Regions from separate parts of the Homo sapiens genome. Here all the other regions are reported to be linked to region 1. The links are microRNA targets in miRTarBase. Many come from high-throughput screens and were not tested one by one. Region 1 holds a microRNA gene; each other region holds the end of a gene's coding sequence.

Region 1 (7,120 bases):
GACACTGCCCTGATTTTCCGAAGAAGAAATCCTCATTTCACAAATGTAACTAGAAGCCTAGTAGCATGGGATGGCCGCTTGCCTGTCTCACAGACGTGGAATTACTTCCCGCTGAATGCAACAACTTGGAGAACCCTGGCCTGGTTGTCTTAGCCTCACCAACCAGTCTTCCCTTTTGAATCACAGAAACTGCACAGTAGGGGCTTGACACTTAGAAGTATGATATCATTGTTCTTGCCTAGAGGCTCTTCCACAGTGAAGCGCAGTTTTGCTGATGGACAGATTTGAATGGCTCGTGCTCTGAAGACTGGTCCTTGGGACCCAGCCCAGGTCAGCCAGCTGCCCAGCAACCAGCCAGCATCCATCCACATCTCAAGGTGGCTTGGCTCTTCTCTGCTGGTCTTTTGTAAATTCATGTGATGCTCTGTTTTATGGAGGAAATGATAAGCTGCACGCCAATTCGGGAATATTTAGGGTTCTAAAACTCTAAATTAGGGCTCCTGGATCTTATACGTTATCTAGTTAATCCCTTCATTTTGCAGACAACGAAATTAATGCCTAGAGAAGGGAAGTGATTTGCCCAAAGCCACACAACTAAATGGAGGCAGAATTGGAGGTAGAAGCCAGCTCATCTCTGCGTGGCGTTGGAGCATAACACACTCTTTGAAGGGGCAGTTTTCTCTTCTCCTTGCCTTTATTTGGCTGAGGTTAAAAGGAATTGTGCATTCAGAGTCCACAGGTACACACGACAGGGCAGTTTAAAACTAACTAGCAGACAGACTCTCTGGTGGAAGTAGCTCTCGACGGTGTGTTGGACACAGTCACCTAAATTAAAAATAAGGGCAAGGACTGGCTGGGTGCTGCAAGCCCAGGAGCAGGAGGTTGCTGGGGGGTACAGATCAAGAGCAGGCTCCGTTTCCCTTAATTTAGTGTCTTGGGTCAAGGGCCAAGGATAGTCTGAAGTAGCAGCAAACGTGAATACTAGACTGTGGTTAGAGAAATAGACTTTTAGAATGCTCAAGTACCCTCGGTTTACAGCAAGATGTTCAGAGGTCCTGCTTTAATGAGGAGATGATCATGCAAATGGGAGCTACTAAGGCGCATGGAACAGATTGCTGTTTGGGAAATTACACTTGCCCCCCACTATCTTGTTTTCTGTCATTTATTTGCCTAACAATCTTGACAGAGATGCAGGGCAGATGTTACTCCCAGCGCCCAGTTGGTAGTGCAGATTCCGGATGTAGCAGGACCTCTGTCCCCATTTCTCTGAACTGCTTCTCTGTCTGTATCTAGTAGATTAGTTCCTTCTGAGGAACAATGTTTTTCCACCAACAAAGCGCCTGCTTTGAACCATACTTGAAAAGAAACTTTCAAAGGCGGCACCAGCCTCCCTGAACACCTTTTCCAAAGTGCTTTCCAAAGGGAGCCATCTTCCCACCTCCCACCACCTCTCAGATTCGCTTCTGAAGACCTGGCTCAAAAGCAGTGGCTTTGTGGGACCGAGATGGAGGGAAGGATGGAGGTCGGCCTCTGGAAACTACAGCCGCCTTATCGATAACGGATTGCGCCAAGTTGCCAAAAGGAGTTTTCCAACATACGATCGAGTTCCAGTTTGTGATTTGTGACCTGTCCCAATTGTTGAAGTCACACTTGATTTTTTTTTTTTTTTTTCCTTTTTTGGAACTGATGTTTAGAGCTTGTTTGAGTTGGATCCAATGCTGTTTTAACAGCTGTTCTAATCAGAAGTGCTGTCAATTATTAACCTTAATGGTGGTTTTTCTTTCAAAAATATTTCTCTAAGCTCTCTTGAAATGTCAAAATTTGGCTTCTTGGTAGGAAGTCATTTAGTGAAATCACTTAATGGCTGGGCATCAGTTTCCCCATCTGAAAAGTGGAGATGTTGACAAGCGCCTTCTCCGCGGGGTTATTGTGGATGCACACATGGCGAGTTGGGTGGGTGATATCAGCGGTCATTACTGTTGTTAGGAGGGCTTCTGTTAAGCCAGCTTTCCATTTCCAGGAACTTCCCCTCCCCCAAGCGCCACCCTCCAAAAAATAAACATTTCTTTAAAATGTTGAGCGAACAGCTTTCCTGTTCATGCTTTGACTCTGCAGAGTGCACGCAGCCCATTCTCAGGGTTGGGCAGCCTTTGTAGAGATGGGGGAGGCCCAATCCCTGCTTCCACTTTGTGGGGAGACCCCAAGAGGGTACTAGCAGATGATGGCACAGTGACAGCTGGGAGGGATGGGATGTGCTTGCTTCATGTCCCTTTCCCAGGGGAGGGGCTGGGTTTACGTTGGGAGAACTTTTACGGTGAACCAGGAGGTTCTCCCAACGTAAGCCCAGCCCCTCCCCTCTGCCTGCCTCAACCCTACACAGTCCTGTCTGGTGACGTGCCAAAGTCCTTCCTGCCTTGCAGAGAGGCCTCTCTTCGTCGAACATGGGCCTCAGGAAAGACAGCCTGAATGCCACTACCCCAGGCTTGTGGAAGGTTCTGCATCTGTGTGGCATTGTTGCGATAGCCCTCAGTTGATGCTTGTTTGTGGTGTTGGGAGGCAGGAACTACTTTAGGAGGGTGGAGGGGTGAGAATGAGAGAGGACTTGCCCTGAGCCACCCAGCTGTGGTCACCTGATGGCCCGGATGGCTACATAAATCCTGGGAGATCCGTTGTCCTCATAACCAGAGTGAGCTGGGCTCCAGACCAGCCCTATGGGAAGATCCTGTCTGTGGGAAGCCTTTGGCCACGTGTTTGCTGAAGGGTGTGGGGAAGGGCAAGGTCAGCTACGTTTCTTTTTTGTCAACTCCCGAGACCCTGACCCTTGGCCTGTTTACCAGTGGAAGGAGGCCATAGCCAGAACCCTTTTATAATCACCCTGCCTCCCTGCTCTCCCAGAGACTGTGAGAGTTAATAGTTGCTGAGGAGGCCAGAATGACTGGGGATGTTCTGACCTTGCCCCTGCCTTCCTGGCTGTGGGGAGGAGTAGTGGCCAGGGACCCATCTAGGTGGCTTGCGATTGGCCTGGCTTGGAGGTGCCACCCCACCCCGTTGGTGAAGGGCTTGGGCCACTGGCCACCAAGTGTATGTCAACACTCCATCCACCACGGCCCCTCCCACAGATGCTGCCCATGCTGGGGCAGGCCCAGATCCACAGCAAGGGGTCACTGCAATATGAAGTCTCAATAAATGCAGAGATGCCAGTGATACTATTCTTTGGGCCAAACATTTACGGAGCAGCTACTGTGTGCCAGACACTGCTCTATTGTTGTTTAAGATAACAGGCCTTGGACCTGTGAGCTTCCTAAACAGTAAGGTTGGTTTTTTTTGTTTATTTTTGTTTGCTTTTTGTTTTTTACATATCTTTCTATTCTTATTTGGTGCATGAACTCAAAGGTGAGAGAACTTGTTACTCTGCCGGTTTGGAGTGAGCTGCAGCCTATGCTTGTTTCTAGAACTCCTGCCCTATCCAACCCGGACTTTTTTGCTTCATTCCCCATTCCTACTATCAGTTGATTTAGGCGAGGAAAAAATAAGCAGAGTGAGGAAGGACCCTGTTTGGGAGAGCTCTTCCCACTTAACTAGATTAACAATTTATATAATGATTATTTAGTAATCCTCCTGGGTTCCTTAGAGTATGAATGACGGGTGTCTAGTGGGTGGAGAGGCCAGGGATGCTTTTAAAAGCCCTGCAGTGCACAGAACGGGCTCCACACAGCAGTGAATTATCTGACCTCAGATGTCAATAGCATGGTGTTTGAGAAACCCTGATGTATGGTGTCCTGGCTAGAGTGCCCCACACATGTGTCAATGTGGAGTCCCAGTGGGTCTGAGCTGGGCAGTTTGGAAGTGGGGGCCATTGTTGACACAGTTGGCCTGGGATATGAGCGACAGTCCTTTATAACAGGAATTGTCTCTCCCCAAATGCCAACAGTGGTGCTGGCTGGGAAACACTGACTCTGTTCCTGAGGAGCTAGAGTGTTCTAGGCAGAAAGCTGACAGCAGTGATTCCTGATCCTCTCCCTGCCAGGAACCCCCACTGTAGCGGACAGGCTCCGTAGGTTGGCGAGCCCTGCCACCGTGGCTGGCAGCCCAGGACACAGGCCTGCAAAAACCCATAAGGCTCTTTAGTTGATGGCCTGCCTTTCCACAAACCAGAGGCGTCCTCTTTAGTGGCCAAGGGTGGAGGGGGTGGAGGGTGTTAGCCCAAGGAATTCTCCCGAGGTCCAGGGTCTATTTATGCGCCTTCAGATTGTTTTTATTTTAAGTGCACAAGGATTTCTCATCCAGAATCATTTGACATGCAGATGATCACAGATTTTTAAAGGCTGTTGTCATGGTTTTGTCTCTGAAAGATTGCTATGTGCTGATGAAAGCTTTGAAGCCAGCTTTGGGACCTCAGTCCTGGCGGGCTCAGGATTCAGAATGAGATAAGAAAAGCAATTCTGAGAGTCGTCTGTCAGTGGTTCTAGGCCTTTCTATCTGGACTCAGTTAACCCGTATAGCACCACTCTTGATCTGAGATCTAAAGTTTACATAGGATACTGGTGGAAACTGTTGACTTTCTAAATGCAGTCTTTTCTAGGGTGTTGGGAGATGAGGCAGAGAATTGATCTACCTTTCTAAGATTGACTTCTGTGAGGGATTAGGGATCTAATGAATTACATCTCTGAGCAGCTTCTTAGACAAGGCAATGCTATATCCTAAAAAATGAAGTGTTGGCTGGGCATGGTGGCTCCTGTCTGTAGTCCCAGCCCTTTGGGAGGCCAAGGTGGGCAGATCACTTGAGCCCAGGAGTTTGAAACCAGCCTGGACAACGTGGCGAAACCCAGTCTCTACAAAAATACAAAAATTAGCTGGGAGTGGCAGTGCACCTATAGTCACAGATATTTGGGAGGCTGAGGCAGGAGAATCACCTGAGCCCAGGAAGTCGAGGCTGCAGTGAGCCAAAATCATACCACTGTACACCAGCCTGGGTGACAGTGAGACCCTGTCTTAATGGGAAAGAAAAAAAAAGAAAGAAGGCTTAATGGTAGGATTTTAGCCTGGTAGCATATATGTGGGGGAGGGATTGATCTTGGTGAGGGAGAGGCTAGTCCCAGGGAACCCTTTGCCACATAGGACCGCTTATCAGCTTAGTCCCATTTATCTGAGAGCTCATGTCCTATTGGCACTGGGCACCAGTGGGCAGAGCAATTCCTCTCTCACTAAACTGTGTTTCACTCTTACAGTGGGTTTTGCTGGGTTGTTGGGGGTGATTTTTATTTCGTTTTGCTTTAATTAGGGATTCCATCCAGAGGATGCAAACTATATTCTGAACCAGACATGTAGACTACCTCTGATGGAAATTGGAGCTCCCTAAAATGTAGGCAGCCTGGCTGCAAGGGAGTTGAAAGAGATTTCTTCATGCTGTGGATTTAGCTAGAGCCTCCTGGTAGGAGGCTGACTGAGGGCAGAAAGGATGGAGCCCCGTGGAGAGGGGCTGTGGTCTGGGGGGAGTTTGCATTTCCACTTGCCTATGACATTTCAGTGACTTGATTTATTTGCCTGAGCTTCATGTGGTCTCCTTGCCTTTGCAGACAGAGATTGCGAAGAGACTGAACACAATTTTAGCACAGATCATGCCTTTCCTGTCACAAGAGGTAAGACCTTCTTTTATTATTTCTTCCTTTTCTTTCCAAATCAGCCCAGTGGCTGGTGGGGTCTCACTGGAGCCTGAGCCCCAGCCCCAGCCCCAGCCTCAGCCCCTGTCCATTCATACTGACTGAGCTGACAACCTGGAGATTTCCAGAGCCTTCTCCGGCCAGTCTGGAGGCAGGGGGCCATATCAGAGGGACCATTTGCTCCTTCTTCTCATAGAATTGTTTCTCTGCCATCACCTGAGTCCAGAGATTGGAGTGCTGGCATGCGACCTAACCATCAGTGGGCAGTGGGTGCCTCTTTCCCATCCAAACTAGCATCCCCAGCCCAAAGTGGACCTCAGTTCCTGGTACAGAGTGCCCTTGCTGGGAGCATGACCCAGGTGGTCATGTCACTTTCTACGCCTACCTTCCAAGGGACCTCCATTTGGGACAGCGGCTGGACTAGTGGGTGATTTGAGATAAATGCCTGCAAAGAAGCCCCCTGGTGCCGACCAGACAGACGGGCCGACTTTAGTGGGCTCTGTTTCTGTCCTCTGATTTCACTCCAGCCAGGGCAGGCCCTGCCCTCTACTCCCACTCAGTGGCTGGGACCATGTCAGCTCCCTCAGGGACTCCTAATGGTGACCTGAGTAAATGATTGAATTAATATATAAGAATCAGATATGGCAATGCCCTCGGAGCTTGCAGCCCAGTAGGAGAGAAAGCTGTGTATGTGGCTGGTACTACCTCAAGGCCAAAGGGAATTAATGCAACCACTTTTTAAAATAGACTTTATTTTTTTAAGAGCAGTTTTAGGTTCACAGAGATTTCCCATATCCTCCCCACTATCAACATCCTCACCAGAGTGGTACATTTGTTGAAACTGATGAATCTACATTGACACATCATCACCCAAAGTCCGTAGTTTACATTAGGGTTCATTTTACCACTTTTTCTTTCTCTATCTGTTCATCTGGAAACATACTTTGTTTTCTCTCTATTTAGACAGGTATGGATAAGGTATATGTAGACATACTTTTTCCCCAAATCCTTTGACGGTAAATTGCAGATATCCTGACAATTCACCACTAACTACTATAACTGCATCTCCTAAAAACGGATACCATCCTTCATGATTACAGTATTGTTACCATGTTTAGAGAATTAATAATCATCCTGTAATATCATCTGATATCCAGCTCATACGCAAATTGCATGGAAAAATTTGTGTGTGTGTGGTTGACTAATAGCCATCTTTTGGCATGCTCTTTGTTTTAGAACTTAAAAGGAAGTTTCAATTACAAAACTAATACATGCTCATTGAAAAAGGTCTAAAAGAGAAAGTAAAATCGCCTGTCACCCTCCCCCCTACTTGTGCCCTGTGCCTGTTCAGTGGGACTCCTCTGTCTGCTCTGGGCCTCTCCGAGAGGCCCTGCCAGTGCTGCACAGCCTGTGACCTCCTCTGTCCAGGAAAGTGGCTGCATCTAACGCACACCCTCTTC
Region 2 (7,120 bases), not on the chromosome of region 1:
CTCACTGCAAGCTCAACCTCCCAGGTCCACGCCATTCTCCTGCCTCAGCCTCCCGAGTAGCTGGGACTACAGGTGCCCGCCACCATGCCCGGCTAATTTTTTTGTATTTTTAGTAGAGACGGGGTTTCACTGTGTTAGCCAGGATGGTTTCGATCTCCTGACCTCATGATCTGCCCGCCTCAGCCTCCCAAAGTGCTGGGATTACAGGCGTGAGCCACCGTGCCCAGCCACTATTCTTTATTATTATATTAACATTGGTTAATCTTCTGCATTTCTTTTATAAGATTTTTTAACATAATGTGCACGTTCAGTTTTAATGTGGCATTTTAATAATTGTACTTAGGAAGATCTCATGGATTACATGATTATTATAAATTTATCTTGTGTTTCTAACTGCTATACTTCTCTTTGCCCAGCCTACTCCTACAAAAAAAGAAATCAACTCCTTGGTTTTAAGTTTCTCAGCCTGAGCAACATAGTAAGACCCTATCTCTCTCTCTCCTTTTTTTTTTTTTTTTTTGAGATGGAATCTCGCTCTGTTGCCCAGGTTGGAGTGCAGTGGCACGGTCTCAGCTCACTGCAACCTCCACCTCCCACGTTCAAGCAATTCTCCTGCCTCAGCCTCCTGAGTAGCTGAGATTACAGGCGCCTGCCACTACGCTCAGCTAATTTTTTTTATATATATATTTTTTAGTAGAGACAGGGTTTCACCATGTTGGCCAGGCTGATCTCGAACTCCTGACCTTGTGAGCCACCACGCCTGGCCAGTAAGACCCTATCTCTATCAAAAAATAAAAATTAGCCAGGTGTGTTGGCACACACCTGTGGTCCTAGCTACTGGAGAGGCTGAGGCAGGAGGATTGCTTGAGCCCAGGAGGTTGAAGCTGTAATGAGCTGTGATTGTATCACTGCACTCCAGCGTGGGCAACAGAGTGAGACTCCATCTCAAAAAAAAAAAAAATTCTTTTGCTTATTAGAAGTGAATCCTTTTACTGTTCCTCTCCTTCTGAGCCAGGAGTAGCGTGTGTGATATAGCCAGAGGTTTTTCTGTCAGGTGCAACTATAGCTGTAGTAACTCTTCCCAGTGTTATCAATTCCATTTGAGTGTAGGGGCCATCAGAGGAAGGTTTGTGGCATTAGGCTGCTGGATTGAAATGCTTATGCTTAGCAGATTACCAGTGTTCCCTCTGTTCTCCCTTTGTGGTTTGCCGGCAGGATTTCCTTTCACCTTGTCTTCCCAGATTTGCCCGTAACTCCCACCCTGACAGAGCACAAGGCCAGTGATAGGCCTAGAGTCCTCAGCAAATTGAACAGAATGGGCCATCTTCCTCTTCTATCCAGGGAGTAGAAACTTACTTCCCTGTTAAGTTGTTTATCCTAAATTTTGTCTAGTCTTAATGGTTTGTGTTCCTGATTATAGTTTGAAAGCTGCCTTAATGAGAGTATGTGTATGCCTGTTTTCTACAGTTTAAGATAAAATCTTGTTGGCCTTTGAGTCAAAATTTGAGATTCCTGAAACCCCAAATTTGTGTTTGACTGTAACTCACACAGACACATTAAAAACACTGTTTTTTTGAAATCCAAACTTTAAAATAGGGTAAGTTTTGAAGGTGATTTTAAAACCAGGCACAGTGGCTTGCACCTATAATCTCAAAACTTTGGGAGGCTGAAGCGGGAGGATCGCTTGAGCCCAGGAGTTCAAGACCAGCCTGGGCAACATAGCAAGAGCACATCTCTACAAAAAAAAAAAAAAAAATACAAAAATTAGCCAGGCATGATGGCACACACCTGTAGTCCTAGCTACTCAGGAGGCTGAGGTGGTGAGATCACCTGAGCCCAAGAGTTTGAAGCTGCAGTGAGCTATGATCACCACTGTACTCCAGCCTGGACGACAGAGACAGACCCTGTCTCCAAAAACAGAAGTGATATTTTAAGTAAAATATTTACTATGCCATTAAATAGCCAGTTCTTCAATTACATAAAAAAATTCAACATGATTTAAAATCAACTGTTTAGGAAAGCATCTATGGTGTAAAGATATCCATGATGATAATGAGCTGAGTATATAGTTCATTCTTCAGTATAGGAAATTAAAATGTGAGTTTATCAGAATGAGTAACTTAAAGAGAAATTGCATATCTCTTTTCCTGCCTTTTTAAATGTAAGAATCTCTAGAAATATTTTTTGTTTAAAGTAGTGGTAGAGCTGTAAAGTGATTGTTTTTTAAATAATTATTTTTAGAAGTTGTATTTTTTGGGTTTTTTGTTTTTGTTTTTGAGACAGGGTCTCGCTTTGTCACCCAGGCAGGAATGCAGTGGTGCAATCATGGCTCACTTCAGCCTCAACCTCCTGGGCTCAACAGATCCTCCCACCTCAGCCTCCCAAGTAGCTAGGACTAGAGACATGTGCCACCATGTCCAGCTAATTTTTCTATTTTTTGTAGAGACGTGGTCTCACTATGTTGATCAGGCTGGTCTCAAACTCCTGGGCTCAAGTGATCCCCCCACTTCAGCCCCCTGAAGTGCTGGGATTACAGGCATGAGCCACTGTACCTGACTGGAAGTTGTATTTTTTTAAAACTCCTAAGTCCAGTGAGATTATTACATGCAGTATAGCTTATGTTAAACAAACATTACTGTCTTAGTCGGATGAGTTTTGGTCTCAAAACTCATGTAAGAATAAAACTACTTAGTCTGGGCACAATGGCTTGCCCCTGTAATCCCAACACTTTGGGAGGCCAAGATGGGCAGATTATTTGAGCTCAGGAATTCGAGACCAACCTGGGTAACATGGCGAAACCCCGTCTCTACAAAAAAATAACAAAAATTAGCCGGGCATGATGGTGGGCACCTGTGGTCCCAGCTATTCAGAAGGCTGAGGTAGGAGAATCACTTGACCCCGGGGGGGTGGAGGTTGCAGTGAGCCAGATCACGCCACTGCACTCCAGCTTGGGTGACAGAGTGAGACCCCATCTCATAAAAAGAATAAAACTACTTTTGTAACTGTGGAGAAATCTGTGCATCTCAGGAACTCTCCCTGATGGACTTTGAGTTACTCTATGATTTACATGTCTAGAAATCACTAGATTGGACACTTCCATTTACAGCTAGCATTCAGGGCGGTCACCTCAAGTTCCCAAATCTCCTTTGTCTCTGCACATTAATGAGCCAAAAATCCAATTACTACTATAAACGAATTGATACTCACTGTAAATATTTGAAGCCAGAATGTGTTCAGACTTTTCTCAGAACATTTTCATGTCTCAGTTAAGCATCAAAGTAGAAAAGGAAAAAAAAATTTACTGGGTTTTTGTGTGTGTGTGTGTGTGGTTTTTTGTTTGTTTGTTTTGCCCCCGGAATAACCTCTGGTGATTTTTGAACACATGGCTCTTGGGCAATGTACTGTGAATTGCTTTTACAGCTCTAACTCAGGAACAAAACATGCTATGAGATTAAAGCCTTGGAAGGATTACGTGAACTTACTTTAAACTTCATTTTGGACACTGAAGTAATTACTATGTGAAGAAAAAAAGGAGTCTTTAAGCAGTCTCTAACAAAGTGGCAAGTTACTATTAATGGTTGATTTTATTCAGCTGTTTTTGTTTGGTTATCTGAGAAGAGAATATCAGTACCATGGAAGTAGAAATAGACAAGAAGTTTATAGCTCCAAAGTGCTTATGATCTCTTTGGGCAGATAGTACACGCTTTTTTTTTTAATCATAATATATGTACTTATTACAGAATATAGTCACCATCATTTGTCTACTGACAAGATTACATGAAAGAAAAGAAATTAACATTAAGAAATGCTTATCTTTAAATGTTCACTTAAATATTAGAAAAAATTGGGGTGATTTACTTAACTATGCACATATACATACATACATACATATATATATATATATATATATATATTTTTTTTTTTTTTTTTTTTTTTTTTTTTTTTTGAGACAGAGTCTCACTCTGTCGCCCAGGCTGGAGTGCAATGGCATGATCTTGGCTCACTGCAACCTCCGCCTCCTGAGTTCAAGTGATTCTCCTGCCTCAGCCTCCCGAGTTCAAGTGATTCTTCTGCCTCAGCCTCCCAAGTAGCTGGGACTACAGGCACACACCACCACGCCCAGCTAATTTTTGTATTTTTAGTAGAGGTGGGTTTCGCCATGTTGGCCAGGCTAGTCTCGAACTCCTGACCTCAGGTGATCTGCCCACCTCGGCCTCCCAGAGTGCTGGGATTACAGGCATGAGCCACCGCACCCAGCCCACTTCAATATTTTCATCAGTAAATTAGTATACTTTAGAGTTGTGGTGATTAAAATAATATATGTAAAGCATATAAGTAGAATGCTTGGCAAACAGCAAGTGCTTACTAAGCGTTAGCTACTCATAATAGTAACAGCTGATTTAATAATAGGATCTGTAAATAAGATAGTATTTTCTGCTCTACAAATGAAGAAATTAACACGTACAGAGGATAAGTTAATTTGCCTAAGATTGTCCAGCTAAATAAAAAGTAGAGCCAGATTGAACCCAAGAAGTATAACTTCAGAGATCAATCTCTTAACTGCAATACTATTACACTCCCTTATTATTCATTCATTTATTTCACAAAAAATTAACTGCCAGGTACTGTTTGTCACTAATAACATTATTTATATTGAATACAGAAGAAAATATGCACAATGTGATGAAGATGGGCATATAATGACATAGCTTTTTACTTTGACAAAGCCTAATCCAAATATTTAAGCATTTTTATAAGTATCATCTGCTTTAAAAATATAGTCAATGAATATTGCTTCTCCCCAATAACATGAGCCAGATAATTTCAAATAAATAATATGTTTATAAAACCTTGGATTTTTTTCACTGTATTATTCATGCATTTAGGTAAGATGTGAATGAGGATATTTCTTATTTATTTTTTTACTTATTTTTATTTTTTTGTTTTGTTTTATGAGACAGAGTCTCGCTCTGCCTCCCAGGCTGTAGTGCAGTGGCACGATCTCCGCTCACTGCAACCTCCGTCCCGGGCTCAAGCGATTCTCCTGCCTCAGCCTCCCGAGTAGCTGGGATTACAGGCGCCCACCACCATGTCCAGCTGATTTTTGTATTTTTAGTAGAGACAGGGTTTCACCATGTTGCCCAGGCTGGTCTTGAACTCCTGACCTCAAAATGATCCACCCACCTCAGCCTCCCAAAGTGCTGGGATTACAGGCGTAAGCCACTGTGCCCAGCTACTTATTTTTAAAGATTTTAAAATTACCAATAAACACTAGCCATAGATTGACCCTTGTATTCTAACTACCAGAAAGCAGACAAGTCATAAACCATTTGCTTCTTTATCCTAGTCATGAAATAACGTGTTCTGAACAGAAGCACTGACAGTTGAGTTTAAACAGAAAACAGCCTGTTAGTTTCATATGAGTGGGATCCTTTCAATATGCTTAATTTTTGCTTCTGAAAGTTTCTGCCATCTCAACGTTCAGTATAACTGTTTTTTGAGTTTTATGAATATATGTTTATTTATTTTTAAAAACCAAAGAGATTTTCTTGGTGATTATTGTCAACCAAGCTGTGACATGTTAATGATGTAGTTTAGTGTCCCTAATAAAGTCACATGAATGCTTTTCTTAATATTGTGGGGTTTTCCATTCAAAAGTCAACCATATGATTGCATATGTGCTGAATTAGACTTTGTAAAGAGATTATATAGTGTCTTCTTGAATGTTTTATCTAATAAAAGAAATATAATGGGGTCTGTGCTACTTCTGGCCGAAGCAAGACAGGTGAGAATGTTTTTTGTTTCTATTAAATAATTCAATTGCTGACAGTTATCTCTTTGGTGTAGAACATAAAAAATGGGTTTAAAAATACTATAAGGAAGGAAGCAAACTATTAGTAGAATCTGGATGACCAAAAGATGTCTTTTCACAGAACTGTAAGTCAAATCTTTCTCCATAATGGACGTACAGGTTCTTATTTTTCTCAGATGGCTTACAAAAGAGTAGTATGATGTTAGTACTACTAAAAAGGAAAATCCAATAAATGTGGTTCCAATGAGACCTGCAATCTGAGAGATCATGGCTCCTAGTTCCATCTGCCGATTGTAGCATAGGCTCTCTTCTCCTTCTGTAGCCTCTATGACTGAGTAGTATACGGTAACTGGAATGATTATGCCCAGTACAACTCCCCATATGTAAATGCATAGTTTTCTAGCAAAGTTGGGCTGGCGAAATTTTTTCAGTAAATGGCCATAAAATATTTTCTCATAGCATGAAGTAGTCTCTTGCGAGGAATCCTTTTGCATTAAGGTAGCATAGCGGCTTATGGCAATCCAACTTAAAATTAAGAGACTGACAAACATACTTGCATGCATGGATAGAGTTCCCAGAAAATTGACCACTCTGCATTGAGCAGATTGATATTCCCATTGGAAACCTTTCAGGAAATAGATACTCATGAAAGGCATGGCACTGCACACAAGTAAGTTTGCAGTCACAAGGTGTGACAGGTAGATGTGCGTTGATGTTTTTTTACCTATTTTTGTTAAAAATATCCATTGAGAGAGAGTGTTTCCAAAAACACCAACAATACAAAGGAGGATGTAAATGATTGGTAAAGCCATGGAAGAGATCATAGATGGTTGAATACATGTTGTATTGTTGTTCATTTATGTCAGGTTTTCTTGAATTTTGTCACAGGAGCTAGAATAGAATTGCAGATATTTAATATTAAAATTATTTTTGGTACAGTATTTAAGCTGAATAGTTTTTAAAAAAGAAAAACATTGAATTAAATAAAATAGTAACAAAAATGTATTGGATGGAACGGGAAAGTATAGATGGCTTCTTACCTTTTCTAATCACGATTGTCCGGTTGAAATAAAGACAAAAAGTTACTTATTGTGATGGATAATGCCTTTGTCTGAAAAACAAAATTTGATGTGAATAGTTACATGCCTGGGATTTATAATTTTACTTAGAGAAATGTATAGTTCTTAGATTGTAAAACAATTTGTAAGTGATGATTGATTTTTCCTAGAAATATAATTTAAAAAATTTTAAGGCACATGTAACCAATTCATGTTGGCCAAAGTATTACAGAAGTATTTTGCGGCCACA
Region 3 (7,120 bases), not on the chromosome of region 1:
CTGTCAAACCTTTCAACAACCACTATGTGATAAAGAGAATGCAGTATAACGAGCTGTTAACAACTTTAGAATTTGGAATAAATCTATGGATGTCCACTGTAGAATCCTTTCAACTTTTTTTTTTTTTTTTTGAGACACAGTCTCACCCTGTCGCCCAGGCTGGAGTGCAATGGTGTGATCTTGGCTCACTGCAACCTCCGCCTCCCAGGTTCAAGGGATTCTCCTGCCTCAGCCTCCTGAGTAGCTGGGATTACAAGCACGCGCCACCACGCCCGGCTAATTTTGTATTTTTAGTAGAGACGGGGTTTCACCATGTTGGCCAGGCTGACCTCCTGATCCTCATGATCCACCTGATCCTCATGATCCTCCTGACCTCATGATCCACCCGCCTCGGCCTCCCAAAGTGCTGGGATTACAGGCTTGAGCCACAGCGCCCGGCCTCAACTTTTTGTATTCTGAAAATTTTCCTCACAATGTGGAGGAAGACGACATTCTGAAAAAATAAATCGCGCTTCACAAACCTTAAAAACTGATATACTGACTGGGCGCCGTGGCGGGCGCCTGTAATCCCAGCTATTCGGGAGGCTGAGGCAGGAGAATCGCTTGAACCCGGGAGGCGGAGGTTGCAGTGAGCCGAGATCGCGCCACTGCACTCCAGCCTGGGCAACAGACTGAGACTCCATTCCCCGACCCCGTCCCCCTAAAAAAGCTAACATATCAGCCACTTTCAGTTCTCTACAAATTTTAAAAGGAAAACTACCCGAACCAAAGTTATCTATCTACCTATAAAACTCTACGAACGTAAAAAAAAACATACTAGCAAATCAAGAAAAATCTGCAATCTTGTAACTCAAGTCTAACAGAAACTTCTTTGGCGCGTTTTCCTCAAGGCGTTGCAAAGCATCTTCAGCACAGAAGCGAGCTCCGAGTGGAAGAACTCTAAAATTAATCCCCAATTTTAATCAAGCAATTAACCAATTATCTCAGCACACCCGGATTCCTTGAGGCCCCCAACTCTGCATTCTGGGACCACTAGCGTTTGCCCCGGTATAAAAACCGATCCCGCGTCTAAGCAGCCGGTATTTCATCACCTACAACTGTAACATGACGGCACAATTTGAGCGTGGCTGCGAAATATGAAACCTCACCACGACCTCAAACAGAGGGGGGCAATTAAGGGCTTGTGTACAATCTGTCAGGTGAGCAGCCTAAAATAACCCTAAACACGGCACCCGGGTGGGAGGCAGGAGTGGGTCTGGTCAGGAGACGGCCTCCCTGAGGGGAAGAGGTCTGCGCCGAGGCAGCCTGCGCGCCCCGAACCCTAGACTCTCGGTCCGCCGGCGGGTGACAGAAAGCACTTGGAATTCTGGCCCTCCTGGAACTTCCGCCCGCGCCCTCGCCCTCGCCCGGCGCTGCCCCGGCCCCACGCCTGGCGCTGCCCCGGCCCCACACCCGGGTGACAGGGCCCAGCGAGAGGAAAGGATATTCTCGGCGCGGAGCTGCTCGATGGTCTCCTCGCACTGCCGAAGCCGCTCCCGTAGCTCCGCGTCGCCGACCCCATTTTCGTCCTCCTCGTCGCCGTCGTCGTCCTTGAAGCGAGTGTGAACGGGCTTCGGAATCGACTCCTCTGGGTGGTCGAACGGCTCGAAGAGCTCTAGATCGCCAAAATACACCTCTGCGGCCATTTTGGGCTGTGGAAAAGATTCGAGAAGAGGCGGAGCCGGCCACCAGGGCTTGGGGAAGAAGGTTGGAAGGCGGCACCACTCTCTAGAGCTCTGGCCGCACGGAGCCACCCGCTAGGGTTTTCTCCAGACGCAGGCCGCGAAAGCTGCACACGGGGCGGGGCCAGTCGCTAGAGACTACAACTCCCGGAATGCAGCGGGGCCTATCGGGCTTGCGATTGCCCGGAGGACGGCATGCTGGGACGTGTGGTTTCTAAGCGACTGGTACTCATTGTCTGCATTGCATCCTGGGATTGGTGCTTTTTGAAATGTGAAGAAAGCTGGAGTAGGTCAGAATGCGCTAAAGCAATCTGGGGGCAGGGCGGGGTGGCTCACACCTGTAATACCAACTACTCGGGAGGCAGAGGTGGGAGGATCACGTGAGCCCAGGAGTTGGAGACCACCCTGGGCAACAGAGCGAGACCCAGACACTACAAAAAAATATAAAAATTAGCTGGGCGATTGTAGTCCCAAGTACTCGGCAAGCTGAGGCGGGAGGGTTTGAGCCCAAGAGGTCGAGGCTGCATTGAGCCCAGATGGCGCCACTGCACACCAGCCTGGGAGACAAAGCAAGACCCTGTCTCAAAAAGAAAAAGAAAAACAAAAACCAGTATGGGATGTTCCTGTTAGGCAACTAAGGGTGAAAAATCAGAGCACGACGCATAGCTTCTCACAGATTCTGGTGTGCGTGCCACACCAGAGAATAAGGAACTCCATAGCCTGAAAGGGAACTGAATAAAAATAAACATAAAAGAGAATAAGAAACTCCAGCTTTGCTACAGAGATGACTGTTGTAGATTAGTTTATTGAGCTTGCTTCGTTTTTAATGTAAGATTAGCTAGACTCAACTATTTGTCTGTTGAGGCTTTCTGTCATTCAATCACATTATTTACTTACACCTTCGATGGGCCAGGCACTTGTCTAGGACCTGAGTATGGTTACAAGAGTAACCACAATAGAGTAATTCCTCCTCTCACGAAGGCTGTAGTCCACAAAAAGCAACAAAAACCCCATAATTATAAATGTTCCTGTTCTTGGGTCGAGATGGTTGTTGATGGATATTGATCACACAAAGAAATGTGGGCCGGGGGCGGTGGCTCACATCTGCAACCCCAGCACTTTGGGAGGCCGAGGCAGGTGGATCACGAGGTCAGAAATTCAAGACGAGCATGACCAACATGGAGAAACCCTGTCTCTACTAAAAATACAAAAATTAGCCAGGCGTAGTGGCACACGCCTGTAATCCCAGCTACTCAGGAGGTTGAGGAAGGAGAATCGCTTGAACCCGGGAGGCAGAGGTTGCAGTGAGCCGAAATCGTGCCACTGCACTCCAGCTTGGGCGACAGAGCAAGACTCTGTCTCAAAAAAAAAAAAAAAAAAAAAAAGGTGAAAAACACAGGAAGTTATGAATATTTAACAAACACCCTAGTCTGTGGGAGTCAGTAAAGTGAGGAAGTGAGACTTTAAGGATCGGCAAAGTTGGGGGTGGGAGGATGGAAGAGTGTCTTAGGTGTAAGGACCACCATGTTGAGTGAAAAGGCAGAGTGGAGCAAGATGAGGTTGGAACACTGCTAGGTCAGTGCTCAAAGGCCCTTAAGGAAGCCTCTTTCCGTTTACAACATTGGGAAGTCACTTACACATTTTAACATTTTTTTTTTCTTTTTGTGGACAACAGGATCTCCCTATATTGCCCAGGTAGGTCTTGAACTTCTGAGCTAAAGCTATCCTCCTGCCTCTGCCTCCCTAAATACTGGGATTACAGGAATGACCCACTGTGCCTGGCCATTTAAATTTTTTTTTTTTGAAATTTTATTTTTTGAGACAGAGTCTCACTGTGTCACCCAGGCTGGAGTGCAGTGGCATGATCTCGGCTCACTGCAACCTCCGCCTCCCAGGTTTACTTTCACTGAAAAATCTGCATGAGGCCTGGCGTGGTGGCTCACGCCTGTAATCCCAGCACTTTGGGAGGCCCAGGCGGGTGGATCATGAGGTCAGGAGTTCAAGACCAGCCTGGCCAACATGGTGTAACCCGGGAGTTCAAGACCAGCCTAGCTGACATAGTGAAACCCCGTCTCTACGAAAAATACAAAAATTAGCCGGGCGTGGTGGCGGGTGCCTGTAATTCCAATTACTCAGGAGGCTGAGGCAGGAAAATTGCTTGAACCCAGGAGACAAAGGTTGCAGTGAGCTAGGATCATGCAACTGCACTCCAGCCTGGGCAAAAGAGTCTCTCACAAAAAAAAAAAAAAGAAAAAAAGAAAAAAAAATTCTGCATGTAAGTGGACCCTAAAGTTCAAACCCATGTGTTCAAGGGACAACTGTAATTTCATCTTTTAATTATTTGCATTTGGCTACTCAAAAAAGAAATTGAAATAAAATACTTAGGCCAGGCACTGTGGCTTCACACCTGAATCCCAGGTAGCACTTTGGGAGGCTGAGATGATGCAGATCATTTGAGGCCAAGAGTGGGAGACCAGCCTGGCCAACAGCCTGAGAACCCCATCTCAGGTACATTGTCATGGGCCTTTGGTGCCAGCTACTCAGGGGAGTGAGGTGGGAAGATCACTTGGACCAATATACATATACACACATATTTTATTGGACAGTGCTGCTCTAGATGAGCAAAGTACAGGCTGTATCACTCATCATGTATGGTCAGCTCCTAAAATAACTGTAGACACACAGGAAGCTTTTGCGTCCACACTGCCTTAGAAGGTCATGAACATTTTTAATAAGATTGATTTAAAAAGGCAGAGCTTAATTGAAAAATGTTGATGATCACGAAATGAAGGATCCATAGTGTCATTTCCTTAGAAGGCTTAGATTTGTCACTGAAACACGGTGAAAAGCCATTTTGCCATAGAATTTCTGTGCTCTGGGAAAATGAAAGGTTTATTAAAGTACATTAAAAATCTTACAATCTGGCTAGGTGAAGTGGATCACACCTGTAACCCCATCACTTTGGGAGCCCTGAGGTGGGAGGATTGCTTGAGGCCAGGAATTCAAGACCAACCTGGGCAACGTAACAAGACCTTGTCTTTATAAAAAATTAAAAACAAGCTAGGTGTGTTGGTGAGCACCTGTGGTCCCAGGTACTCAAGAGGCTGAGGTGGGAGGACTGCTTGAGCCTGGGGGAGCCTGCTGCAATGCACTGCACTCCAGCCTAGGACAGAAAGCAAAAAAAAAGAAAACACCCCATTACTTCATTTTCATGTATAAAAAAAATACCTAATGAGCAAGTTGGCAAGACTTAATTCCAGCTTTTAAAATAAGGCTGTCAATCTTATTCCTGTAGTCTTCCCTGATTGTAATGTGCTCTCATTCTGTGATGTTTTCCAAAGGATTTTTCAAAGGAAAGCCAAACCTTATTACTTTGCTGTAACTGAAGTAAATTAACTTCAAGTTTTGCAGGCCCCCCCCACCCCTTGGCTCCAGATTTATGTTCAATCTAGTAACAAAACATTTTCTAGGCTGGCTGCAGTGGCTCACGCCTATAATCCCGGCACTTTGGGAGGCTGAGGAGGGTGGATCACCTGAGGTCAGGAGTTCAGGACCAGCCTGGCCAACATGGTAAAACCCCACCTCTACTAAAAATACAAAAATTAGCTGGGTGCGGTGGTACGCCTGTAATCCCAGTTACATGGGAGGTGGAGGTGGGAGAATTGCTTGAACCTGGGGGGCAGAGGCTCTGGCAGTGAGCCGAGATTGTGCCACTGCACCCAGTTTAGGCAACAGAGCAAGATCCTGTCTCAAAAAAACAAACAAAAAAAATTTCTAATATTTTAATATTTTATAGTCTATGCTGGAGAAGACTTCAAAGGGATAATGAGCAAAAAGCATGCAAAGAACTTGTTATAAGGCACTTTATTAAAATAAAAGTGCTTACATCCCTTTAATGCATTAATCTATCTCCTGAATAACACATGTAATATTTGACAAATACTGAATACCAAGTCTGTCCCTTATAATAGGAAAACATACTATTTTAGTAAGTTTTCTCCTTCCACCTTTTACATTTTTGCTCACCACGGTATTGACTGTAGTATAGTTAACTGGCCTTAAAAAGGGTGGTGGGGAGGGGATTTCTAGCTAGTGTTTTCTAACAGCAATTGCCAAATGCTACAGAAACTATAAAACAAATTCAAAGAAACATCCCAGGTAACTTAAATTAACACCAGTTTTGAGAAAACCATTTTTATTATCATTACCACCCAGCTTATCTGTGCTGGATTATGTACCAAATGGCCAGATCTTCTAAAGAACATCTACATAACATTTCTTTCATGTTTCAAGAGATGAAAATAACTGTACAAGGTTAAGTACAAAAGTACACAAGACAGCGGACACGAAAAAATCCATGTATGAGATTTTATCCCCACCTGCAGCTTTTATATATTTGAAAAGTAGAATTCATGAACTAAAAAATATTATCCTTCTATAGTCCTGTCAAGTTTAATGGAAGTGGGTTTAACCTGATTACAACACTAACACCAGTATCACTGATCTGATATTTACAAAAATTTGTATTTTTCAATAAATTAAAGTCAATGCAACACCCATGCAAGCTAGAGTGCTAGCTGTTTGGTGAACAAGGACGTGACATCAGAACAAGAAGTCTATAAGTCCCAAACTTTACAAGTGTGATCATTTTCAAACTGCATCCATTCCTCGCATTGAAGATGTGAAACCCAAACCCATTCCTCTTTGTGTGTGGGTTTGTGATCTTGCCATTTCATACTGAGCATCTAAATTTCGAAATACTTCTTCCTGCTGCTTCAGAGTCTTGTAACTTTCTTCATCAACTGAGCTACATCCAGCTTCATCTTCACTCTAAAAATCAGACATAAAACATTACAATGAATTCAGATGGAGATAAATATTCTCTCACTTGACACTATTTTTTATGTATTTTTTTTTTTTGAGATGGAGTCTTGCTCTGTTGTCCCGTCTGGAGTGCAGTGGTGCCATCTCGGCTCACTGCAACCTCTGCCTCCTGGGTTTAAGTAATTCTTATGCCTCAGCCTCCCAAATAGCTGGGATTAGAGGCACATGCCACCACGCCCAGCTAATTTTTGTATTTTCAGTAGAGACGGGGTTTCACCACATTGGTCAGGCTGGTCTCGAACTCCTGACCTCAGGGATCCCCCCTGCCGCCTGCCCCCCGGCCTCCCGAAGTGTTGGGATTACAGGTGTGAACTAGGCTGACACTATTAAATTATACTTTTGGCCGGGTGCAGTGTGGCTCACGCCTGTAATCCCAGCACTTTGGGAGGCTGAGACGGGTGGATCACCTGAGGTCAGGATTTCGAGACTAGCCTGGCCAACATGGTGAAACCCCGTCTATACTAAAAACAAAAAACAAACAAACAAAAATATACTTTTGGGATATGTATTTGATC
Region 4 (7,120 bases), not on the chromosome of region 1:
ATCGTTGCAAAGAGGGGCCGGAGGCGAAGGAGGCGGCGAGGCTGTGCGGCGGGTCGGAGCGACGCCGAGGTCTGACGTGTCCGCGTCCCTGCGGCCCCACTCCCGGCCGCCGTGACCTCCCCTTGCACGGGGCGGACACGAGCAATGTCACGGGCCCCGCCGCGCGCCGCGAGCACTCACCAGGGTGAGGGCTGCCCGGGTGGGCTGCAGCTTCCTCTTGCTCACAGCCCGGACAGTTGCCCGGACTAAGGAAGCCGACATCTTCGCCGTCCCGGCGCCCCGGTGCCTCGGGCCGAAGGTCGGCCGCCTCAGCTTCTCTCCATGGACACGGCGGGCGCATTGACGCCACAAGCTTCGGCGCACGGCGCCCTCAGTCCTAGCCCCGCCCCCCGCCGCCACCATTGGGTGAGTTGCATGAGTGACGAGCCGGGGGCGGGGCAAGCCGCTCGGGGCGGGGTTTTGCCGCTCAACGCCGGGGGTCTAGCAGCTGGGTTGCGCACGGTCTCCGGCAGTGGGGTTACCACGCTGCAGGGCGCAGGGCCCGGGAGGAATGTCTTCACCGCCGAGGACGGAGTCGGCGTGACGTCGGGGAGCGGGCGGGAGGGGGCGAGGAATGACCTCAGACCTGCTGACTCCGGATGCACGTAGCTTCACCACCTGCCCCCGGGGCAAGGTGCAGCGTCACCCCCTGCTTTAATACTCACCGTGACAAACACCATCATAGGCGGTGACACTTAAGGACGCATAAGTCAACCCTGCACTGGGAGCTTATGCTCTCAAATGCAGAGTGATCGTTCCGATGCCCAGACATCTACATCCATTTTCATTCTTCTTTTGTGGTCCAATTAGGCTGTTCTTAAGAGCATGGCGTTACCGCAGAGTTGTATAATCGCCACCCTCCACCCTTCTCCCCAGCGTGCTGTACTGCTGGGGATGCTGAAGGGTGGTGACTAATGCAGTTTTCATTCTGGTGCTGAACTGGGAACCAACCCTACTTGAAAATGTGACTGGGCAGCAGTGTGAATAGTCACATTTATAGCGAGCAACAATTACTCGATTTAAAACGTGTTGTCAGACCTTGTCCTGGCTGCTCAGGGGCTTAATTCTGCCTTTTGATGCAGTATTCCTGAGCACCAGACACTGCACAGGCGCGGTACCCAGGCATACACAGGAAGCCAGGTAAAGAGGGGCCAGGGAAGAATGAGATACTGGCAGGACAGGGCTAGCAGATGAAGAGAGGAGGACATCAAGACAGGTGGCATTTGTCATTGAAGTGCTAGAAGTGAAGGAAAAAGGGCAGGAGGGGTCTATGAAGCAGTCCTGGGGAGGACAGATTCGCAGTGTTTGAATGTGGGAAGAACTAATCAGTGAAACATTTTTTAAAGCCAAGTTTATCTTCGATCTCCTGCAGTTTCTGAAAGGATAGTTCAAAATTCCATCAAGTAGTTCTGACTTCCTGCTACAGAAATGCAATCGCATTGACAATAAGAGGACGCTTTTTTTTTTCCCCTAAGCCTTATCTGCACATAAACTGGGGGCCGGGCGCGTGGCTCACGCCTGTAATCCCAGCACTTTGGGAGGCCGAGGCGGGGAGATCACCTGAGGTCAGGAGTTCGAGACCAGGTTGGCCAACATGGTGAGACCCCATCTCTGCTAAAAATACAAAAATTAGCCGGGTGTGGTGGTGCACACCTGTTATCCTAGCTACTCAGGAGGCTGAGGCAGGAGAATCGCTTGAACCTGGGAGGCGGAGGTTGCAGTGAGCTGAGATCGTGCCACTGCACTCCCAGCCTGGGCAACGGAGTGAGACTCTGTCTCAAAAAAAAAAAGAAAGAACGGAAGATAGGAAGAGAGAGACAGACAGACAGATAGAAAGAAGAAAGAAAGAGAGAGAAAGAAAGAAAATAAAAGAAACTGGGGGCCGGGCGCAGTGGCTCACACGTGTAATCCCAGCACTTTGGGAGGCCGGAGGCCGGCAGATTACTTGAGATAAGGAGTTCTAGACCAGCCTGGCCAACATGGTGAAACCCCGTCTCTACTAAAAATACAAAAATTAGCCGGGCGTGTTTGCGGGCACCTGTAATCCCAGCTACCCAGGAGGCGGAGGTTGCAGTGAGCCAAGATTGCGCCACTGCACCCCAGCCTGGGTGACAGAGCGAGACTGCATCTCGAAAGAAAGAAACTGAAAAAGTGATGGGAGGGAGGAAGGGAGGGAGGGAGGGACATAGAGAGGTGGTGGTGTGGTGGGTTTGTTTCTTGGCCTTCATCTTTGACTACCTGGGGGTTTGGGATCTCATATCCTCCCTCCTACAGATATTGTGAAGATTAAATGAGTTAATACAGGAGAAGCCCTTAGAGGGGTGCAAGGCACACAGCCTCACTCAAATGGTAATTGTTAATGAGTATTTAAAGATGCCATGTATTGTGAAACTACTATAATGGTGGATAGATATCATTATGCGTTTGTCAAAACCCACACAATGTACACCACCAAGAGTGAACCCTAAGGTAAACTATGGGCACTGAGAGCTAATGATGTGTCCATGTAGGTTTAAGATTGTAACAAGTGTACCACTGTGGTGCAGAGTGACAGTGAGGCACATGTGGAAACAAGGGATATATGCAGTTCTGTTTTTCTGCTTAACTTTGCTGTGAACCTAAAACAGCCCTAAAATTAAAATTTAATAAAAATAAAAGATGCTGTCATTTTTTTTTCAGTTATTGACACATTACACAGTTGTGCAGCACTTTACAAGATTCAGAAAACTCCATGAGCATATTATATTATCTCATACTAGCCTCACAACTTTGAACTGAGTAGGGCAGAAGCACTGGCATGGCAGTTTTACAGATGCTGAAACTCAAGGATTTTAGTAGAGAGCATTAGACACTATTGAAAACATCTAGTCCTCAATTTTCTGATTCAGGATCCTGTGTATGTTTAACAGACTTCTTTCCTCTATTTAATACCCACTATTTAACAAAAACAAACAAAAAAGAAAACCCCACTATTCAGTTTTTAACTTGGTTAGTTGTTTTGCACATAAGCATTAAGTCACATAATCTACTTGTTAGTTTCTAATATCACTTGAAACTGGCACAAGTCCCTGAAATAATGTTATGTTAGAATAAATAATTTTCACGATTATTTAAGCAGTATGTGAGCTTATCTCAGAGCAGCAGCTGTCCAGTGGTGTCAAAATGAGGTGGGTATGGGAAGTGTCAAAAGAGTTACAAGCTGTAACCACTTTTAGATTTCCACTAATATGTGACAGAACTTGCAATAGGGAACTGTTTCACCCCGCACTTCAGGCATTAGTTTCATAGTTCTAGACATTTAAAGAAGTGTTTTCCTGGTAAGACCTCACTTGATTATCACAACTGTGTGGAAAGCCAAGAATGGTTTCCATTTTATAGGAATGGAAACTGAACTGCCTGAGATTAGGGGACTGCCACACAGCTGGAAAACGAGGTGGGCCAGACCTTGTCTAAGTCTAGAGTTCCATTCAGTGGAAAGTCTATGTAGTTCTTGACTGCTGCTGTCCAAATATGCCTGCTTCCAAAGAAAAAACTACTGAGGGCTTTACAGTTTTACAGGGGTTTGATAAATTCTGTTTTCAACGTGTGTGTGTATATTTTTGCTTGTAACACTGAACTCTATTGATGTATTTATCCAGGATCTTTTCCACTCAGGAAAGATTTAAAAGTAGAAGCCATTTGTCAAACATATTTCAAGAAGAAAAATACACTGAAGTTATCTAAGAACATTTAAAAACATTTTTGCACACTGCTGATCCTGCACACATTGAGCAAGAGTTTTGTTGTTGTTGTTGTTGTTTGAGATGGAGTCTTGCTCTGTCGCCGAGGCTGGAGTGCAGTGGTGCAATCTTGGCTCATTGCAACCTCCGTCTCCTGGGTTCAAGTGATTCTCCTGCCTCAGCCTTCTGAGTAGCTGGGATTACAGATGCCCATTACCAAGCCCAGCTAATTTTTGTATTTTTAGTAGAGACGGGGTTTTGCCATGTTGGCCAGGCTGGTCTCGAACTCCTGACCTCAAGCGATCTGCCCGCCTCGGCCTCCCAAAGTGCTGGGATTACAGGGGTGAGCCACTGCACCCAGCCAAGCAAGAGTTTTAAACATCATAGATTGGGGCCACTGGACCACTGCTATACAAAAGAGATTTCATATTTTTGTTCCTGAGAGAAGGTGGCAAGGAGAACCTTGGTAATGGGGCATTTGTACAGCTTAAGATAGATAAGCCGGCTGCACTTGAAAGATAGCTAGGCCAATGGACTTAGCAAAGAGCAGACGTTTTGGCATCCCAGCTGGGGCAGCAAGATGGGGCTGCGACCACATCCAGGTAAAGAATCAAGGGCAATCCATTATCCAGGCCTGCTGGCAAATACTGCTCATTGTCCCATGGATCCAGTGTGAGGTATTGAAAATCAAACAAAAGACCCAGTACTTTGGGCAGAAGCTACCTTAAGGATCAGATTAAAATGTAGGAAACTTTTAACATCCTTAAAGGGATACAAGAAAATATGGCTCCTATGAAAAGGAAGAGAATATAAGTAAACTAAAGAAATGAGAGGTAAAGGAAGGTCAGTGAGGCAAATTCCAGAAAATTAGAAGTGCAATGAGAAAATCCATATTAGAAACAGGAAGCACCAGAATGACAGTAAAAATTAAGCCAGTCATGTAGAGATTAAACTTGAAGTTTTCCTAGCATGAAAAGTCACTGGATAGATGTATTTCTATATTGAGGTAATTTTCTTTCTGAATTACAGGGATAAAATTAAAAAACAGAAGCACCCAGGCAGAAAAACAAAACCTACAAGAGAACAAAAATCAGCCTGGTCTTAGACTTGTCTTCTGCTATAATGCTAGAAAACAACAGAACAGCATCAATGGGCTTTTCAAAGAAAAGTGTGACAAGCATTGTAAGCCTAGTCGACTTTCATGCATGAGTTAGAGAGAAGAAACCAGAAGGGGGCAGCTGAGGACGGTCACGTAGAGCAGCATCAGCCCAGGTTGCGTCATTCATTAGTTTGCGTTCAAAATGAGTAGGGAATGATCACTAATTCTTTCTACCATGGCCTCCAAATTCTGAAGTCTTTAATTTTGATATGATTCGTCTTTAGCTAGACTGTCTTCAAATAATTGTTTAAAAAAGAAGGGCACAGGGATGTGCGTCTTCTGAGTCCTCAAACATCCAGAATGTTCGTCCAGCAAGCACCCCCTGAGCCTCCCTGCCTACAAATTCCCCGCCCCCCCACCCCCATCTGTGCCTTTTATAATAACAAATTTATACGTTCCCAGAGCCTGGAACACACTGGATGTTAACACACACCAATGATTGCAAGGGCACAAGTCAAAGGGAAGTCTGTGTACACTATTTTAGGGGAGTATATTTGTCCTTTCTTCTTTTTTGTTAAACGCCTCTTACTATCATTCCCAATGTTCTCACTCCTTGATCTTTTTTTTTTTTCCCCAGGAAATTTAGGAATCTTTCACTAGAAAATAATGTAGATAAAATTACAGGTTGAAATTCTGATTTTATTTCAAAATGATAAATAAACCGAGGCATAGTTCTGACCAGGTACTATGTCTGCAGGGCTTTTGAAATTAAAGAAACAGTCCAGGAGGGCTCCAGTCAGACCCAGAATGACACCAGCCACACTTGTGACTGGCAGAGATAACCTCTTTGATCTTCAGCAATTTTAAAAGTTCTTCATCCTAATTTCTGAGTATCATAAAAAGTAAAAAGTACTTTCATTTTATTTTTCCTTTGAAAATGTTTTTAGTGGCAAACAGGACTACTTGTTTTCCTTACTTCATTTTTATAAGCATAGTAGTTATATGTCAATTTACTTAAAATTAGAGAGGGAAACCCCAGAGACCTGAGTGGCACTGCCCATCCACTGAAGGCCCACATAAATAGGTACTCATGTTCATGTTATCACGTCTACAAATAGCAATAAAATGATGTCCGTAAATCGGAAGTACAGCAGTAGCAGTTCATACATATCTGATATGCTTTCACACCAGGATTCAGTAAACAACAATAAATATAATTTCCCCTCTTCAAAACAAAAAATGGATTTATACGGAAAAAGGGTTAATTTACTTGGGGTTTATCAGCACACCATTTTTAATGTGCTTTGAAAGAATTAAAAACCATGAAACTGTATTCACTGAATACCGGTCCATAGTTATATTTTTTCTTTTAACGTGGCTTAAATACATACATCATGTCTTTCTATTAAAATCCTTAAATCTATGGGGATGTGTGGTAGATAAGACTATATTAAAAATTTTTCCTCATTAACAATTTCATTAAATTAAAAAAAAATCTGACATTTCCCTTAAATGTTAAGTTGAAGCCTGATCTACACTGCTGTGTCCTGTGAAATGAACCTAATTTTCCGAGTGAATAGGAACGCCTGAGTGGCCATTTAGAGTGCTGCATTTTCCTTCCCTCATGATTCCTGCTGGGTCCTCTTCGCTGAGGCTTTTCCCTGAGTCATATATTTACTGGAAAGGCTACCTAGAGGAGGGGAAGAAACAAAACCCAATATAAATGAAACAAGCCTCGCTTTATGACAAAAGCCATAAAATTACTTCTTATTAAGTAGTCACAAAAACTTCATACTAGAATTGGTCACTTGTTTTGAATCAAGTAATAAGACTTGATATTGAAAAGTATATATGCACATGATTAATTAAATATAAGCTTAGTCAAAATTCTTTCTGAATGCAGACAGGTTCCTAGAGTGATCTCATTTTAATACATTTACATATTCACTATTTCCATGTTGGTACAGAGCACCAGACGAACTTAAGGTTCTGCCTTGTATAATTCAGTATCTTCATTTGCAGCCAAACATAATAGATTGCAAAGAATTATCTGGCCAGAAATAAATATCTTAGATCATTACTCTGCAGATACGAAGCTGTGGATGGTAATCATTGTAGCAATAACTTATTGATATAAAAGGAAAAAGGGAAATTTATTATATTTACAGGTGGAGGACACAAATGAGGATTACTGATTAAAACCAATACCACAGAATAGTTACTAAATTTTGTTCTGGAGTCTGAACAAATAGATCAACGAAAA

What was found. The annotated mature microRNA hsa-miR-629-5p reads UGGGUUUACGUUGGGAGAACU and lies in region 1 at 2,288-2,308, shown strand. An mRNA with a match to its seed (bases 2 to 7 or 8) in the 3' UTR can be bound and repressed. Matches are read on the target gene's strand: a 7mer-m8 pairs with bases 2 to 8, a 7mer-A1 pairs with bases 2 to 7 and ends in A, and an 8mer does both.
Region 2: the mRNA of GPR82 is a reported target of hsa-miR-629-5p. Seed matches in the 3' UTR shown: 7mer-A1 at 4,149-4,155.
Region 3: the mRNA of RSRC2 is a reported target of hsa-miR-629-5p. Seed matches in the 3' UTR shown: 8mer at 6,184-6,191.
Region 4: the mRNA of TUT7 is a reported target of hsa-miR-629-5p. Seed matches in the 3' UTR shown: 7mer-m8 at 6,131-6,137.

Annotation. Positions count from the first base shown.
Region 1 is chr15:70,074,615-70,081,734 of GRCh38, reverse strand. MIR629 (microRNA 629) reads left to right here and starts at 2,267; the gene lies at 2,267-2,363. It overlaps TLE3 (TLE family member 3, transcriptional corepressor), which reads left to right. Exons shown (of 20, transcript NM_001105192.3): 5 at 5,577-5,639. RefSeq lists enhancers at 2,203-2,809, 2,810-3,416.
Region 2 is chrX:41,726,576-41,733,695 of GRCh38, reverse strand. GPR82 (G protein-coupled receptor 82) reads right to left here. Exons shown (of 3, transcript NM_080817.5): 2 at 6,853-6,923; 3 at 3,566-6,703. The coding sequence starts at 6,669. The coding sequence ends at 5,659. All of the region lies in intron 5 of CASK (calcium/calmodulin dependent serine protein kinase), which reads left to right. Among named protein-coding and RNA genes, the nearest start is that of GPR82, 6.0 kb to the right of the region's middle.
Region 3 is chr12:122,499,156-122,506,275 of GRCh38, forward strand. RSRC2 (arginine and serine rich coiled-coil 2) reads right to left here. Exons shown (of 10, transcript NM_023012.6): 10 at 4,299-6,551. The coding sequence ends at 6,372. It overlaps ZCCHC8 (zinc finger CCHC-type containing 8), which reads right to left and starts at 1,777. Exons shown (of 14, transcript NM_017612.5): 1 at 1,487-1,777. The coding sequence starts at 1,685. RefSeq lists enhancers at 745-1,436, 1,437-2,130, 1,626-1,705, 1,906-1,965, 2,016-2,195 and 1 more and silencers at 1,336-1,485, 4,914-5,114.
Region 4 is chr9:86,282,198-86,289,317 of GRCh38, forward strand. TUT7 (terminal uridylyl transferase 7) reads right to left here. Exons shown (of 27, transcript NM_024617.4): 27 at 5,536-6,547. The coding sequence ends at 6,480. It overlaps ISCA1 (iron-sulfur cluster assembly 1), which reads right to left and starts at 341. Exons shown (of 4, transcript NM_030940.4): 1 at 181-341. The coding sequence starts at 261. RefSeq lists a silencer at 1-21 and enhancers at 192-341, 462-741.